Regions from separate parts of the Homo sapiens genome. Here region 2 is linked to region 1. The links come from fine-mapping of genetic effects on gene expression. A gene starts in region 1. The other region holds a variant in brackets. All regions are shown on one strand. Distances are from middle to middle. Region 1 holds the start of IL34 (interleukin 34). Region 2 has its middle 33 kb from the start of IL34.

Evidence for each region. PIP is the estimated chance that this variant, and not a neighbour inherited with it, causes the effect.
Region 2: its variant is fine-mapped to the expression of IL34 in whole blood (TOPMed, PIP 0.96).

The regions. Positions count from the first base shown.
Region 1 is chr16:70,642,010-70,650,411 of GRCh38, forward strand. IL34 (interleukin 34) reads left to right here and starts at 4,550. Exons shown (of 6, transcript NM_001393494.1): 1 at 4,550-4,966. The coding sequence starts at 4,939. RefSeq lists an enhancer at 7,782-8,282.
Region 2 is chr16:70,609,924-70,618,147 of GRCh38, forward strand. It overlaps a transcript of IL34 not described here. Among named protein-coding and RNA genes, the nearest start is that of IL34, 33 kb to the right of the region's middle. The variant G/C (reference allele first, on the strand shown) is at 3,146.

The sequences.
Region 1 (8,402 bases):
TACGGATACATGCTGTGTCTTAGTTTACCTGGCCTTCCATAAAAAAATACCATAGACCGGGTGGCTTAAACAACAGAAATCTGTTTTCTCACCATTCTCTGGGCTGGAACTTTGAGATCAGGGCACCAGCATGATTGATTTCCGGTGAGGGCTCTTCCCTTGGGTTGCAGATGGCCACCTTCTCACTATGTACTCACATGACCAGTTCTTTGTGTGAGTATGGGAAGAGACAGAGAGAGAGAGAGACAAAGACAGAGACAGAGAGAGTGAGCGTACTCTGATGTCTTTTTTTTTTTTTTTTTTTTTGAGACGGAGTCTCACTCTGTTACCCAGGCTGGAGTGCAGTGGCATGATCTCGGCTCACTGCAAACTTTGCCCTCTGAGTTCAAGCGATTCTCCTGCCTCAGCCTCCTGAGTAGCTGGGATTACAGGCACCTGCCACTGCGCCCGCCTAATTTTTGTATTTTTAGTGGAGACGGTGTTTCACCATGTTGGTCAGGCTTGTCTTGAACTCCTTACCTTGTGATCCTCCCGCCTTGGGCTCCCAAAGTGCTGGGATTACAGGCGTGAGCCACTGAGCCCGGCCTGATTTCTTTTCTTATAAAGGCATTATCCCACCATAAGGACCCCATCCTTGTGACCTCATCCAAACCTAATTATCTCCCAAGGCCTCATCTCCAGGAACCACCACATTAGGGGTTACAACTTCAACACATGTATTTTGGAGAGACACAAACATTCAGTTCATAACATGCTACAAAATGAATGAACCCTGAAAACATGCTAAGTGAAAGAAGCCAGACATGAAAGGTCCCGTATTGCATAATCAATCCCATTTATATGAAATGTCCAGAATAGGCAAATCCATAGAGACAGAAAGAATATTAGTGGCTGCCAGGGGCTGGGAGGAAGAGGGAATAGGGGGTGACTGCTAATGAGTTCAGAGTTTATTTTGGGGGTGATGAAAATGTTCTGTAATTAAATAATGGTGACTGTTGCACAACTTAGTACACTAAAAACCCACAAAGTTGTACACTTTATTATTTATTTTTATTTATTTTTATTTATTTTTGAGACGGATCTCACTCTGTCACCCAGGCTGGAGTGCAGTGGGACTACCTCGGCTCACTGCAACCTCTGCCTCCCGGGTTCAAGTGATTCTCCTGCCTCAGCCTCCTGAGTAGCTGGGATTACAGGTGCGCACCACCGTGCCTGGCTAATCTTTTGTATGTTTAGTAGAGATAGGGTTTTGCCATATTGGCCAGGCTGGTCTCGAATCCCTGACCTCAGGTGATCCACCTGCCTTGGCCTCCCAAACTGCAGGGATGACAGGAGTGAGCCACTGCACCTGGCTGTTGCACACTTTATTTATTTATTTTGAGACAGGGTCTTGCTTTGTCACCCATGCTGGAGTGCAGTGGCGTGATCATGGTTCACTGCAGCCTTGACCTCCCTGGCTCAAGTGATCCTCCCATCTCAGCCTCCCAAGTAGCTGGGACCACAGGCCCGTGCCACTACACCCACCTAATTAAAAAAATTTTTGTTGGTAGATACGGGTTCTCACTATGTTGCCCGGGCTGGTCTCAAAGCCCTGGGCTGAAGCGATCCCCCGGCCTTGGCCTCCCAAGGTGCTGGGATTACAAGTGTGAGCCATCACACGCAGCCTGTACACTTTAAAATGGTAAATTTTATGGCATGCAAATTATATATTGATTTTTAAAAAGAAAAAAGACTTAAGATGCACATCAGAGATTTAAAAAATAACCAGGGAAAATTGAACGTGGATTCTATATGAAATCATATTAAAGAGTTATTAATTTGAGGGTTGTGTGATGACAATATTGTGATTATATATTTTAAAAATCCCTACATGCTGGTGAAATGGCATGTTTGAGATTTGCTTTAAAATATTCCTGGAAAAAAAAATTGGGGGATGAGTGAAGCTGGAATGACAGAAGAGTGATCATTTTTTTCTTTTGTTTTGAGACAGAATCTCGCTCTGTTGCCCCGACTGGAGGGCAGTGGAGCAATCTTGGCTCACTGCAACCTCCGCCTCCTGGGTTCCAGTGATTCTGCTGCCTCAGCCTCCTGAGTAGCTGGGATTACAGGCATGCACCACCACACCTGGCTAATTTTTGTATTTTTAGTAGAGACAGGGTTTCACCATGTTGGCCAGGCTGGTCTCAAAGTCCTGACCTTTTATGGACAACTCTGTGGAAATAACTTTTTTGTTTTTCTATTGGTATTTGAAGTTGTTTTTTCCCCTTCTCCTTGGAGTTTATTCTGCCTCAACTGATTCACCCGCCTCGGCCTCCCAAAGTGCTGGGATTACAGGTGTGAGACACTGCACCCAGCCAGATTGACAATTTTTGAATCTGAGTAACTGCTATATGGGGGTCTGTTATACTATTCTACCTTGTTTCAGTTTGTTTAGACAACTTCCACTATAAAGGAATGAATTTTTTGGGTAGATGGAAATGTTTTGTATCTTGATTATTATAGTAATTACACAGCTCTATAAATGTGCTAAAAACTTTTAGAAATGTATACTGAAAAGGGTAAAATGTAGTATATGTAAATTAGCCCTCAATAAACCTGAAAAAAATCCCCAAACTAATGACAACTAAATGTTCTAGATACGTTAGTGTTTGTAGTGATGCTGTAACAGCAGGGGAATTGCCAGGGTGAGGAGGAGGAGGAGGGGGAGGAGGAGGGGGAGGGGGAAGAGGAAGAGGAGGAGGGAGGAGGGAGGAAAAGGAGGAGGGAGGAGGGAGGAAAAGGAGGAGGGAGGAGGAATGAAAAGGAGGAAGGGAGGAGGAAGGAGGAAGAGGAAGGAGGGAAGAGGAGGAAGAGGAGGAAGTAGGAAGAGGAAGGAGGTGGAAGAGGAAGGAGGAAGAGGAGGGAGGAGAAGGAGGAGGAAGGAGGAAGAGGAGGAAGGAGGAAGAGGAGGAGGAAGGAGGAAGAGAAAGGGAGTAGGAGGAAGGAGGAAGAAGAGGAAGAGGAGGAAGGAGGAGAAGGAAAAAGGAAGGAGGACGAGGAAGGAGGAAGAGAAGGAAGGAGAAAGGAAGAGGGAAGAGTAGGAAGGAGGAGGGGGAAAGAGGAGGAAGAAGAGGGAGGAAGGAGGAAGACGAGGAAGGAGGAGGAGGAAGAGAAGGAGGAAGAGGAAGGAGGAAAAGGAGGAAGGACAAGGAAAAGAGGAGCAGCAGCAGGCAGCGACTGGGGCTGAGATTCAGGGTGACTGCATAAGGGATTAACTTGAACAACCCGTGTTCTCTCTATAAGGCCCTGCCTGCCTGCTGGGCACCTCTTAGGGTAAGGGCCAGCATTCTTTGGTGACACCATGGATCACACAATGAAGAAGATGCCCAAGTCATACCTGCTCTCCCCCGATGGTGTCACTCTGTAGCCATTTTCCCCCACCAGAGGGGAGACAGGGAGGAGGCGAGGGGATGGAAGAGAACTAAATCAGAGACGGAATTCCAGCCTGATCTGCAGAGCAGACACAATGGTCCAGACCTTGCAGAGTCCAGAGGGGCAGATGGGAGGACCACGCACACACGCTGAGCCCTGTGTGGTTGTCGAATTTTGGGAGCAGCCACCAGCCCACAGGGTTTGAATTCCTGTCACACTTCTTACAAGCCGTATGACCTTGGACAAGTGTCTTAACCTTTCTGGGCCTCAGTTTCCTCATTGATAAACTGAGATTTTGCACTTCCATGAGATTGTTGTGAGAGATTCAGTGAATGTAAAGACCTTAGTCCTGGCCGGGTGCGGTGGCTCACGCCTGTAATCCCAGCACTTTGGGAGGCCAAGACAGCAGATCACTTGAGTCCAGGAGTTTGAGACTAGCCTGGCCAACATGGTGAAACCCCATCTCTACTAAAAATACAAAAATTAGCCAGGCATGGTAGTGCACATCTGTAATCCCAGCTACTTGGGAGGCTGAAGCAGGAGAATTGCTTGAACCCTGGAGGTGGAGGCTGCAGTGAGCCAAAATCACGCCACTGCACTACAGCCTGGATGACAGAGTCTGAGACTCCGTCTCAAAAAAATTTTTTTTTTCTTAATTTTTTTTTTATTAATAGAACTGAGGTCTTACTATGCTGACCAGGCTGGTCTCGAACTCCTGGGCTCACGCAATCCTCCCACCTTGGCCTCCCAAAGTGCTGGGATTACAAGCATGAGCCATTGCGTCCGGCTTGTTTTCGGAGTGGGAGCTCGTCTGCTTTTTTAACCTGTCCTTTAGCCTGAGTCATTCATGGACTCTACCATGGCTCTCGATGTGTGAACTCAAACCACCTGTTCATTCCTTGGTCCTGCTTTTGTTCAGGCCCCAGGCTGCCAGCTGGTGTCATCATAACTCACTCATGGGCCAGGGCCGTTCGGACATCCTGAAGTCATTTCTCACGTGAGCCGTGTCCAGCTGCCAGGGCCGGGTGGTCCTGTGCAGGCCGTGGGTGCGGTGTGCGCTGTGGCTGATGGCTGAGTGGCAGCGCTGCTCTTACATAATCAGTTTCTCTCCTCCTTTCTCTTCCTAGAGCCAGATTTCACACTGAGCAGCTGCAGTCGGAGAAATCAGAGAAAGCGTCACCCAGCCCCAGATTCCGAGGGGCCTGCCAGGGACTCTCTCCTCCTGCTCCTTGGAAAGGAAGACCCCGAAAGACCCCCAAGCCACCGGCTCAGACCTGCTTCTGGGCTGCCATGGGACTTGCGGCCACCGCCCCCCGGCTGTCCTCCACGCTGCCGGGCAGATAAGGGCAGCTGCTGCCCTTGGGGCACCTGCTCACTCCCGCAGCCCAGCCACTCCTCCAGGGCCAGCCCTTCCCTGACTGAGTGACCACCTCTGCTGCCCCGAGGCCATGTAGGCCGTGCTTAGGCCTCTGTGGACACACTGCTGGGGACGGCGCCTGAGCTCTCAGGGGGACGAGGAACACCACCATGCCCCGGGGCTTCACCTGGCTGCGCTGTGAGTACTGGGGGGTCCCTAGGGACCTGCATTGGGAGGCCTTGGCCTAGATCCAGGATCTGCCGTAACCATAGCAACCAGGGCATTCTTGCTGGTGAGAAGTTGCGATGCTTCCCAGCCGGACTGCAGACACCCTCTGAGATTCCCACGGCCGCCGTCTGCCCTGTCTGCCGCTCACTTCGGGCTCCGACGGGCAAGCTGGGTGGGCAGTTCTGGCTGGGTGGGCATGGTCCTCAGGGTGGTCTTAGGTCGGGGCAGGCACTGGGGGTAGGTGGCAGCATCTCACCTTTCCAGGCTTGTGGGTGTTGGGGAGCCCCGGGCGGGCAGCAGCGGCCCAGTCCTGGGTATGGCCGGTGGAGGGGGGCAGGGGCTGGTGAAAGTGTCTAGGGACCCAAGACCCACGGCAGAAGAGCAGCCAGATGCCTGGAGAAGGCAGCCTGTTCCCCTCCAACCCTCCCTCCATAACAGAACAGAATTAAAAAGCAGAAAGATAACACTGTTGGTAAAAAGAAAAATAAGTTGAAATGAGGACAGAAAGGAAAAAAAGGATCTGGAAGCCTCTTATGCCTGCTGGCTGGGAGGCCAGACCAAGATCCCCTCAGTCTCCAAGATCCAGTTCAATTGACTCAAATTCAACACATTTTTCCGGTGCCTCCCACGTGCCCACTGCAGAGTCACTGCCATGACAACAAGGACCTTGCTGTCTCGTGCCTCTGTCTCCAACGCCTGGCACAGGGTTGAGTGCTCAGGAACTGTTGGAGGTTTGGGGTATGAGCCTGCGAGGGATTGAAAGAAGAGTTGGGTCCACCCTGGCCCTTGTGGAAATATACAACAAAGGGTTGGGACATTAAGGATGGGTGGAAGGACCCAGCTGGACCCAATGTTCTGGAAACCCCTAGGTCATGAGAAGCAGGGGTGCAGCATGGGGGAGGGGCTACTGGAAATGGTCTAGAAGGTGGGGTGGTGGTCACACAGGTAGACCTGGGGTCATGAGGCCCATGTTCCAGGAAGAGGGGCCAGTGTGAGCAAAGGTTTGGCGGTGGGATGGTGAGGCCAGGCTGGGAGCTGGTTTGGACCCGGCTGGCTGAGGCCTTGAGAGCCAAGCAAAGTGTGCCTCCCTCCCCATAGCAGGCAGCCCTGGAGGATTTGAGAGCCCGGCGGGGGTGGAATCGTGATTGGGAGTTCCTCTGCTCTTGAAGATCAGTCTGGTGGTGTTTGTAGGAGTTACTGCTGTCACCGTCTGTGCAGGAGGGAATGAGGGTCATTCTGGAGGTGGAGGTGCGAATGAAAGGCAAGGGATGCTGGGCTGGTGGCTCACGCCCGTGATCCCAGCACTGTGGGAGGCCAAGGCAGGAGGACGGCTTGAGGCCAGGAGTTTGAAACCAGGCTGGGCAGCATAGCGAGACTCCATCTCTAAAAAAAGGAAAATTAGCCAGGTGTGGTGGCATACATCTGTAATCCCAGCTACTCAGGAGGCTGAGGTGGGAGGATCACTTGAGCCCAGGAGGTTGAGGCTGCAGTAGCAAGGATCGCATCACTGCACTGCAGCCTGGGCAACAGGGTGAGACCCTGTCTTTAAAAAAAAAAAAAAAAAAAAAAAGGAGAAAAGAAAAAGAGAGAAAGAAAAGCAAGGGAGAGGGGAAAAAGCTCCAGGAGGGGTGGGTCTTAGGACCAGGCAAAGACTGGCTGGGGGATGAGGGAGAGGGAGAGCAGCAGATTGAGGTGGGGGCTGGTGCCCAGGGGCTGGGGTGCTGAGGAAGTTGGGCTGCCATAACCAATTAGAAAGCTTCGGGTGGCTTAGAGCAACAGGAATGTGTCGTCTCACAGTTCTGGAGACCGGAAGTGTGAGATCAGGGTGCCTGCAGGGCTGCGTTCCCTCTAAAGGTGCCGAGAAGGAGCCTCCCTTGCCTCTTCCAGCTCCTGGTGGCTCCTGGCTTCCTTGGCTTGTGGCCTAGTCACTCAGATCTCCCTTTGTCTTTGCGTGGCCTTTCCCTTTGTGTGTCTCTATGTCCTCTCCTCTTCTTCCTAGGACACTAGTCACTGGATTTAGGGAACTGCCTAAATCCAGGATGGCCTAATCTTGACATCCTTCATTTAATAATGCCTGTAAGTGGCACAGGACAGGCGAGCCCCCAAGGGGGCTTAGCCTGCGAGGGTTCTTGGCTTTCCCTAGGAGAGAATTCAAGGCAAGCTGGTGGTAGAAGAAAACAGCTTTACTGAAGAGATGTTATAGCTCTGTGCCAGCTCCTGCAGAGCAGGGCTGTGCCAGAGGAAGCGTACTGAGGAGCAGCTCGGGGCCTTTTGCAGTCATATTTATACCCACCTTTAATTGCATGCAGATTAAGGGGCAGTTTATGCAGACATTTCTAGGGAAGGGGTAGTAACTTTTGGGACATTGGGTCATTGCTATGGAAAGCGGTGGTAACTCCCAGGCGTTGCCATGGCAATGGTAAACTGACATGGCACACTGCTGAGCATGTCTTTTGGAATGCTGCTTCTGCCCCGTCCACCCCTGTTTTCACTAGTCCTCAGTTTGGTCCAGTGTCAGGGCTCTGCCTCTGGAGTCGGTCCTACCTCCTACTTCACAAAGACCCCATTTCCAAACAAGGTCACACTCGGGTTCGGGTGAATGTGGATTTGGAGGAGATGCTATTTAACCCACTGCACAGGTTCAGATTTGGTCCCCGGGGCTGGGGGTGACAAGCCTCACTTGTCACTGCACATAGGGTCAACCCAGGGCCAGGGAACCAGGAAGGGAGTACCGTACTCACACAGATCTTTCTTAAGCCTCCTCTCTGTCTTGCAGGTTGTTTTATTATTTTATTTTTATTTTTATTTTTTGAGACGGAGTCTCACTCTGTCACCCAGGCTGGAGTGCTGCGGCACGATCTCAGCTCACTGCATCCTCTGCCTCTTGGGTTCAGATGATTCTTGTGTCTCAGCCTCCCGAGTAGCTGGGACTACAGGCACCTGCCACTGCGCCTGGCTAATTTTTGTATTTTTAGTAGCGATGGGGTTTCACCATGTTGGCCAGACTGGTCTTGAACTCCTGACCTCAGGTGATCCGCCCACCTCGGCCTTCCAAAGTGCTGGGATTACAGGTGTGAGCCTCCGTGCCCAGCCTGTGTTGTGGGTTCTTACCTCTGGGCTAAGACAAGGGCAGGGTGGGTCTCCTGACCAAGGTCAGGGGTGGCACTGGCTGTGGGGTTCCTGGTGTGCAGAGCATGTGGGGGACAGTGGCCTTGAGGTTGGGGCTGTGCTGTCCCTGCCTGGTCCCTGTTTGTTAACCTGTTTCTCTGGGTGGGTGGAGGCAGCAAAAAAAGAAACTTGCCCTTAGCAATGATGTTTGGGCTGCACTCAGAGGAAGGCTGCCCAGTTGGGGGAGAGGCAGATCATCTGTGGACAGGGTTTCCAGGGCAGCTGTGTGCCCACCGTG
Region 2 (8,224 bases), 32 kb before region 1:
CTGGACGTGGTGGCTCATGCCTGTAATCCCAGCACTTTGGGAGGCCAAGGCAGGTGGATCACCTGAGGTCTGGAGTTTGAGACCAGCCTGGCCAACACGGCGAAACCGTCTCTACTAAAAATACAAAAATTAGCCAGGTGTGGTGGCGGGCGCCTGTAATCCCAGCCACTCTGGAGGCTGAGGCAGGAGAATCACTTGAACCTGGGAGGTGGAGGTTGCAGTGAGCCAAGATTGCGCCACTCCACTCCAGCCTGGGCGAAAGAGCGAGACTCTATCTCAGAAAAAAAAAAAAAAAAGTGAACGTTTTTCCAAGGTAGGAGCTGAGAGAGGGATCTGGGAGAGGAGGGAGGAATCAAAGGGCCAAGAAAACTCTTGGTGGATTCTCTCCTTCATCCCCATCCTAGTCTTGTGCCTGTTTTCCTCCAGCGTCTGGGAGTGCCGAGTGTTCAGTTGACCCAGTTCTCCTTCTCTGCTGGAATTTTGGCATCTGGCCCATGTGTCCAGTTCATTCACTCAGCTATGATTTGCCAGAAGTTATAGAGTTTCCTATGTGTCAAGCAGGTGCCAGGCCCTGAGGACACAATGATGACACCAGAACCAGGCTCTGTCCCCAGACCCTGTGGTCATTCCTGTGGGGAGAACGACACACAACACACAACTGAATGCAGTTAGGATAATGTCGAGTGGCCAGTGCTGTGTGGAAAGTGCCGCAGAGGGAGTGACAGGGGTGGCCTGGTGGCCAGAGAAGGCATCTCTACGGAGGTGATGTTTGAGCTGACAAGAAGAAACCAGCTGGGGAGAAATCTCTTGTGGAATATTCCAGGAAGAGATAAGGCAAAGTCCTCAGGGAGTAGCCGTCGGTGCGGGACAGTGGGTGAAGCTAGGGTGAGGAGGAAGGAGGGGCCCCCTCAAGCCTGCCGGGAAGCCACGGAGAGCAGTTAGGGTTGATTCTGAGGGCAGATTCCAAGATTCTTCTGGAAATGAAAAAACTGCTTGCGTTCTTTCCCCCCCTTCCATCCTTTGTGATTTTGGGGGCTTCTTCTTTCTTTCTTCTTTTTGTTGTTGTTTGAGACAGGGTCTTGCTCTGTGGCCCAGGCCGGAGCACAGTGGCCTGGCACAATCTCAGCTCACTGCAACCTCCATGTCCCTGGTTCAGGCAGTCCTCCCGCCTCAGCCTCCTGAGTAGCCGAGACTACAGGTGCGCACCACCACGCCTGTCTAATTTTTCTGTTTTTAGTAGAGATGGGTTTCTCCATGTTGCCCAGGCTGGTCTCGAACTCCTGTGCTCAGGGGCTTTGTATTTTGAAACACATGTGAGAGGCTCTTGGAACTGGAAGGAAGGGTTGGTGCCCCCAGATTGCCTGAACTCGCTCTTGTATCCACTTCCTAGTTGCTGTGAAGGGGGAGGGGCTGCCAGGTACGGCAGATTTGTGTCCTTCTCCCCGCCACCTTGCTGGAGATACCTGGGAGTTTATACCATTCTACACCTGCAGGGGGGCCACTGACTGAATTAGGGGTGCAAAAGCCTGACCTCTTTGCCTCAAATAGAACAACACTGTGGTGCTATTTAAAAACAGCCTTCGGGCTGGGTGCAGTGGCTCACACCTGTAATCCCAGCTCTTTGGGAGGCTGAGGCAGGTGGATCGCTTGAGCTCAGGGGTTTGAGACTAGCCTGGGGCAACATGGTAAGACCCCATATCTACACAAAATTTAAAAAAGTTACCAGCCTGACCAACATGGTGAAACCCCGTTTCTACTAAAAATACAAAAATTAGCTGGGCATGGTGGCAGGCACCTGTAATCCCAGCTACTCCGGAGGCTGAGACAGGAGAATCGCTGGAACCCAAGAGGCAGAGGTTGCAGTGAGCCGAGATCACACCACTGCACTGCAGCCTGGGTGACAGAGCAAGACTCTGTCTTAAATAAATAAATAAATAAATAAATAGCTGGATGTGGTGACAAACACCTGTGGTCCCAGCTCTTCGGGAGGAGCAGGAGGATTGCTTGAGATTGGAGGATTGCCTGAGCCCAGGAGGTCAAGGATGCAGTGAGCCATGATTGCACCTCTGCACTCCAGCCTGGGCAATACAGTGAGACCCTGTGTAAAAATAAAAGATAGCCTTCTGTCTTGAGGTTCCCTCCCTTCATTAATCATGTGAAGCCCAAAGCCTGTCTCAGGCTCTGCTTCCAGGAGAGCCAGCCTCCAACAGGCCGATAGGGGCTGTGTGTTCTGTAGTCTAGAAATCGGGGTTCTGGGATCATGGAACCAGCTGACCCCTGGGGGCTTTTCCTTCCAGCTTTAAGAGTCTCTAAAGCTGTGTGATTTCCTCAAGTCACATAGCAAGTTATTGGCAGAGCCAGGCCCACAAACTACTCACAGCCTGAAAGCACTGGGGGCTGGGGGCTGGGGGCTAGGGGGATCTGCTGGTGAATGGTGAGTATGGTGCAGAGGCCAAGGCCCAAGCTGGAATACGGTGCAGAGGCCAAGGCCCAAGCTGTGGTTCATCCAAGGCTGTGCTCCCAGATGAAGCTCTGGATCTCAGGTAAGGCCCACTCTGCCGTAATTACTCCAGAGACTTTAGTTTCCTGAATTCTGCTCCCTTTACCTCTGTATTAGAATGATTCACACTAAAGTGTGAAAGATTGTCAGCTCAGAACCCTCCCAGAAGCAATGCATCCTGAAAAGAAAGTGCTTGTTAACCCACATCAATCTCTAATTGAAGGGACTTTTTGACAGGTATAAAGTGAGTTGGAAAAACGCACACAGTGTAAATCTGGAGCCTTTGGGGCTCAGGAGGGATTCCTCAGCTTCCCCAAGATCAGCTTCCCCACCCCCATTTCTGCTTCTCCCAATTAGAACACATGTTTTTTGTTTGTTTTGAGACAGAGTCTCACTCTATTGCCCAGGGTGGAGTCCAGTGGTACAATCTCAACTCACTGCAACCTCTGCCTCCCCGGTTAAAGCGATTCTCCTGCCTCAGCCTCCCAAGTAGCTGGGATCACCACGCCCAGCTAATTTTTATATGTTTAGTAGAGGCGGGGCTTCACTGTGTTGGCCAGGCTGGTCTCGAACTCCTGACCTCAAATGATCTGCCTGCCTTGGCCTCCCAAAGTGCTGGGATTACAGGCCTGAGCCACTGTGCCC[G/C]GCCTCAGACCACATCTGTTGAGAAATGCATGTCGTCTTCTTCAGGTTCCCACAGCAGGGCCGGTCGAAGGGGTGTCACTGGAAGTGAAGGTGACGCAACTGAAAAAATAATTTTGTGAGAAGTGTATTTTTGCAGAGGCTGGTGGTTTGAACTAATCTCCCTGGTAAGTGGTTTATTTCTCCGGAGAGTGAAGGACTGTGCATGATTTAGTAAATTTCCATGCCATGTTCTGAAGGGCTGGCATCCCTTCTTGGCTCAGGCAGGCTTGTAGCGTAGACTGGGGACATGGGGTTGGAGCGGGGCGGTTTCCTGAGGCATGGCGGCCACACTGGATGGGGCCTCACCTGGTCTCCACCCTTACTGTACAAGTGCCCTTGGCAAGTCACTTACCTTTTCCAAGGCGCAGTTTCCTCATCTGTGAAACAACTGGAGTTGGCTATTCCGGAACCTTGGTACTCAAAGTGTGGTCTGCAGACCAGTGGTATCTGCAGCACCTGGGAGCTTGTCAGAAATGCAGAGTCCAGCCAGGAGTGGTGGCTCACACCTGTAATCCCAACACTTTGGGAGGCTGCGGTGGGTGGATCACCAGAGGTCAGGAGCTCAAAACCAGCCTGGCCAGCACAGTGAAACCCTATCTCTACTAAAAATACAAAAATTAGCCAGGCATGGTGGCGTGCACCTGTAGTCCCAGCTACTTGGGAAGCTGAGGCAGGAGGATTGCTTGATCCTGGGAGGTGGAGGTTGCAGTGAGCTGAGGTTGCGCCACTGTACTCCAGCCTGGGTGACAGAGTGAGACTCTGTCTCAGGAAAAAAAAAAAGAAAGAAATGCAGAGTCCAGCCAGGCACGGTGGCTCACCCCTGTAATCCCAGTGCTCTGGGAGGCTGAGGCAGGAGGATTGCTTGAGGCCAGGAGTTTGAGACCAGCCTGGGCAATACAACAAGGCTTTGTCTCTTAAAAAAAAAAATTATCCAGGCGTGGTGGTGCACGCCTGTAGCCCCAGCTACTCAGGAGGCTGAGGTGGGAGGACTGCTTGAACCCAGGAGTCTGAGGCTGTTGTGAGCTGTGATCATGCCCCTGCACTCCAGCCTGGGCAATGGAGCAAAACCCTGTCTCAAAAAAAAAAAAAAAGAAGTGCAGTATCCCAGGCCCTACCCCAGACTTTCTGAGTGAGTCTATATTTTAACAAGATTCCAGGTAATGTGTCTGTATGGCACAGTTTGAGGAACCCTTCTTTGGAGCAGACTCCTCAAATGTGGTCCTTGCACCACCCCATCAGTGTCATCCGAGAGACAAAGCATGCTGGAAATGCAAGTTCATGGGCCCCTGACCTACTGAATTGTATGTCTGAGGGAGGGGCCTGGAGCCTGTGTTTTTTAACAGCCTCTCCAGGTGGTTCTTAAGCCCGCTGAGGTTTGAGAAGCATGGAAGCTCAGATTCAACAGTGATGGGAGCCGAGGTTTAGCTGTGGTGCAGCTGCTGAACACGGAACCTGTTTTGTTTTTGTGCTGCTTTCAGAAATGTGCACACACTTGCCTTTCACAGCAATTTCATGATGTTGTTTGTCCTTATCTTTGCTCTGCCTAAGAGATAACTGGGTTTTAAGGGAAGTTATGTGAATTGCCTACACTCTTTGTGTCTCACAGTGTCTTGCAATAGCAATATTCACATAAAGCATTTCTGGCAAGTGTCAGTGAGCTGTTACAGGTGATAAAACTTCTTGTAAATATTTGTTCCTTGATTATAAATGACAGAGGCTCTGTTGGAACAGGAGCTGGGGTAGATCTTGTAGGTCTTGCCCAAGGCTCAGGAGCTGATGAACTGCAACTCCTCTGTTTTACTGCTTAGTATTTTGATTAGAGAATAAACTCATACGGTTTCAACATCATGTAAAATAGAACTATAGCAAAGAGTTTTCTTCCTGCTCCTGTCCCATAACCGGCCTCACCGGGTAACTGTTTATATTTTATTGGGTCTAATCTAATTAGAGCTGATCCTCAGGAAAACAGAAACTCCTGATCTATGGCTCCCCTGTTACCCCCCAAATCTCTGGACTTACGGTGTATGCATTTTTGCAACTTATTTTACTACCCTGACAAAAAGTCCATCGAATTCTAGACTTATTTGGGTTAACAAACATCTTCTTTTAAAGATACACTGGCCAGGTGTGGTGGCTCACGCCTGTAATCCCAGCACTTTGGGAGGCCGAGGTGGGTGGATCAAGAGGTCAAGAGATCGAAACCATTCTGGCTAACATGGTGAAACCCCGTCTCTACTAAAAGTACAAAAATTAGCTGGGCGTGGTGGTGCTCACCTGTAGTCCCAGCTACTCAGGAGGTTGAGGCAGGAGAATTGCTTGAACCTGGGAGGTGGAGGTTGCAGTAAGCCGAGATTGCGCCACTGCACTCCAGCCTGGCAACAGAGCAAGACTCCGTCTCAAAATAAATAAATAAATAAATAAATAAAATAAAGATACACTGTCTCTGAAAGGTGTCTGAGTTGCCAATCTTTCACGCTTTAGTGTGAATTATTCTAATATGTTCACTTTATGCAAATGCAAGCATATACAAATATATAGATATAGATATAGGTAGATGAAAGTGCCAGGCGCAGTGGCACGTGCCTGTAATCTCAGCACTTTGGGAGTCTGAGGTGGGGCAAATCACTTGAGCTTAGGAGTTTGAAACCAGCCTGGGCAACACAGTGAAATCCCATCTCTACCAAAAATACAAAAAATTAGCTGAGTGTGGTGGTGCACACCCGTGGTCTCAGCTACTCGGAAGACTGAGGTGGGAGGATCTCTTGAGCCCAGGCAGTGGAGGTTGTGGCAAGCTGAGATGGCACCACTGCACTCCAGCGTGGGTGACAGATTGAGATCCTGTCTCAATAAAAAAATCCGTCCCCCCTCAAACTCCTTCCACAGATATTTATAGATAAAAGCTTTGCCACCTCTGCTGAACACAGCTTCCAACATAGAAAACACACCATTCAGTGTCTTGCTTGTTTTACTGAATCTATCATGCTATACTACTGTGTGGTGAACATGCAGGTTATACCATCTGCTATCACAGACGCTGATGAGATGAAAAATCTCATACACGTGGCCTGTTGCAGGTGCATACTGTATATGCAGGATAAATTCCCAGAAACGGCATTGCTAAGTATCTGCATTTGTGATTTGAGAGATATTGCCAATTTCCACTCCATAAGGTTAATACCAATTTGCACTTCCATCAGCTTTGGATGAAAAATTAGTTTGCCCGCATCATTGCCAACACATTAAATTGGATTTATATCATTGGATTTTTACCAATCTGATAGGTGAAAAACAGTGACTCAATGTAGTCTTAATTTAAATTTGTTATGAAAAAATTTTAATTTATAATGTGTTTAAGGCCTATGTATTTTTCTATGACCGTCTTACTCATATTGTTTTGCTTATTTTATTTATTTATTTTTTTGTGAGCAACATGTCTGTTTATTTCACCTGGGTGCAGGCGGGCTGAGTCCGAAAAGAGAGTCAGCAAAGCGTGCTGGATTATCATTAGTTCTTATAGGTTTTGGGATAGGCGGTGAAGTTAAGAGCAATGTTTTGCGGGCAGGGGTGGATCTCACACAGTACATTCTCAAGGGTGGGGAGAATTACAAACAACCTGCTTAAGGGTGGGGGAGATTACAAAGTACATTGATCAGTTAGGTGGGGCAGGAACAAATCACAATGGTGGAATGTCATCAGTTAAGGCTATTTTTACTTCTTTTGTGGATCTTCAGTTACTTCAGGCCATCTGGATGTATACGTGCAAGTCACAGGGGATGCGATGGCTTGGCTTGGGCTCAGAGGCCTGACATTCCTGCCGCCTTATATTAATAAGAAAAATCAAAATAGTGTTGAAGTCCTGGGGCGGCGAAAATTTTTGGGGGGTGGTATGGAGAGAGAGTGGGCGATGTTTCTCAGGGTTGCTTCAAGCAGGATTAGGGGTGGCGTGGGAACCTAGAGTGGGAGAGATTAAGCTGAAGGAAGATTTTGTGGTAAGGGGTGATATTGTGGGGTTGTTAGAAGAAACATTTGTTGTGTAGAATTATTGGTGATGGCCTGGATATGATTTTGTATGAATTGAAAAACTAAATGGAATAAGAGAAGGAGAAAAACCGGTATAAAAGGTCTAAGAATTGGGAAGACCTAGGACATCTGATTAGAGAGTGCCTAAGGAGATTCAGTATAGTCCTGCCAGCAAAGATTATTTATTTACTTCAAGAGTTAAGAGTGGCAGTTTGGGGATAGCACGAGGAGATATCAGCTGTGATGGCTTGGAGAAACTGTGTAAACCGGCAGTGTAAACAAGAGCAGGGCATGTATGAGTAGTTGAGAACGGAGAATAGGAGTATGACTAGACAGAAGATAGTAGGGATGACAAGTTTTTTTGGGGCACAGTCTAAGTTGGTCTGGTGTCTGGAATGAGACTGGGGCCTAATAAAAAGGAGCGTCTATACAGGAGCTTAAATGGGCTGTACCCCCTGTAGCATTCCGAAGACAGGCCTGAATTCTGAGAAGGGAAAGTGGTAAAAGTATTGTCCAGTCCTTTTTAAGTTGGTGGCTGAGCTTGGTGAGGTGTGTTTTTAAAAGACCTTTAGTCCATTCTACTTTTCTTGAAGACGGAGGACCGTAAGGGATATAAAGGTTTCACTGAATACTAAGAGCCTGAAAAACTGCTTGGCTGATTTGACTAATAAAGGCTCGTCTGTTATCAGACTGTATAGAGGTGGGAAGGCTAAACTGAGGAATTATGTCTGACAGAAGGGAAGAAATGACTGCGGTGGCCTTCTCAGACCCTGTAGGAAAGGCCTCTACCTATCCAGTGAAAGTATCTACCTAGACTAAGAGGTATTTTAGTTATCTGACTCAGGGCATGTTGAGTAAAGCTAATTTGCCAGTCCTGGGTGGGGCAAATCCTCCAGCTTGATGTGTAGAGAAGGGAGGGGGCCTGAATAATCCCTGAGGAGTAGTAGAATAGCAGATGGAACACTGAGAAGTTATTTCCTTGAGGATAGATTTCCACAATGGAAAGGAAATGAGAGGTTC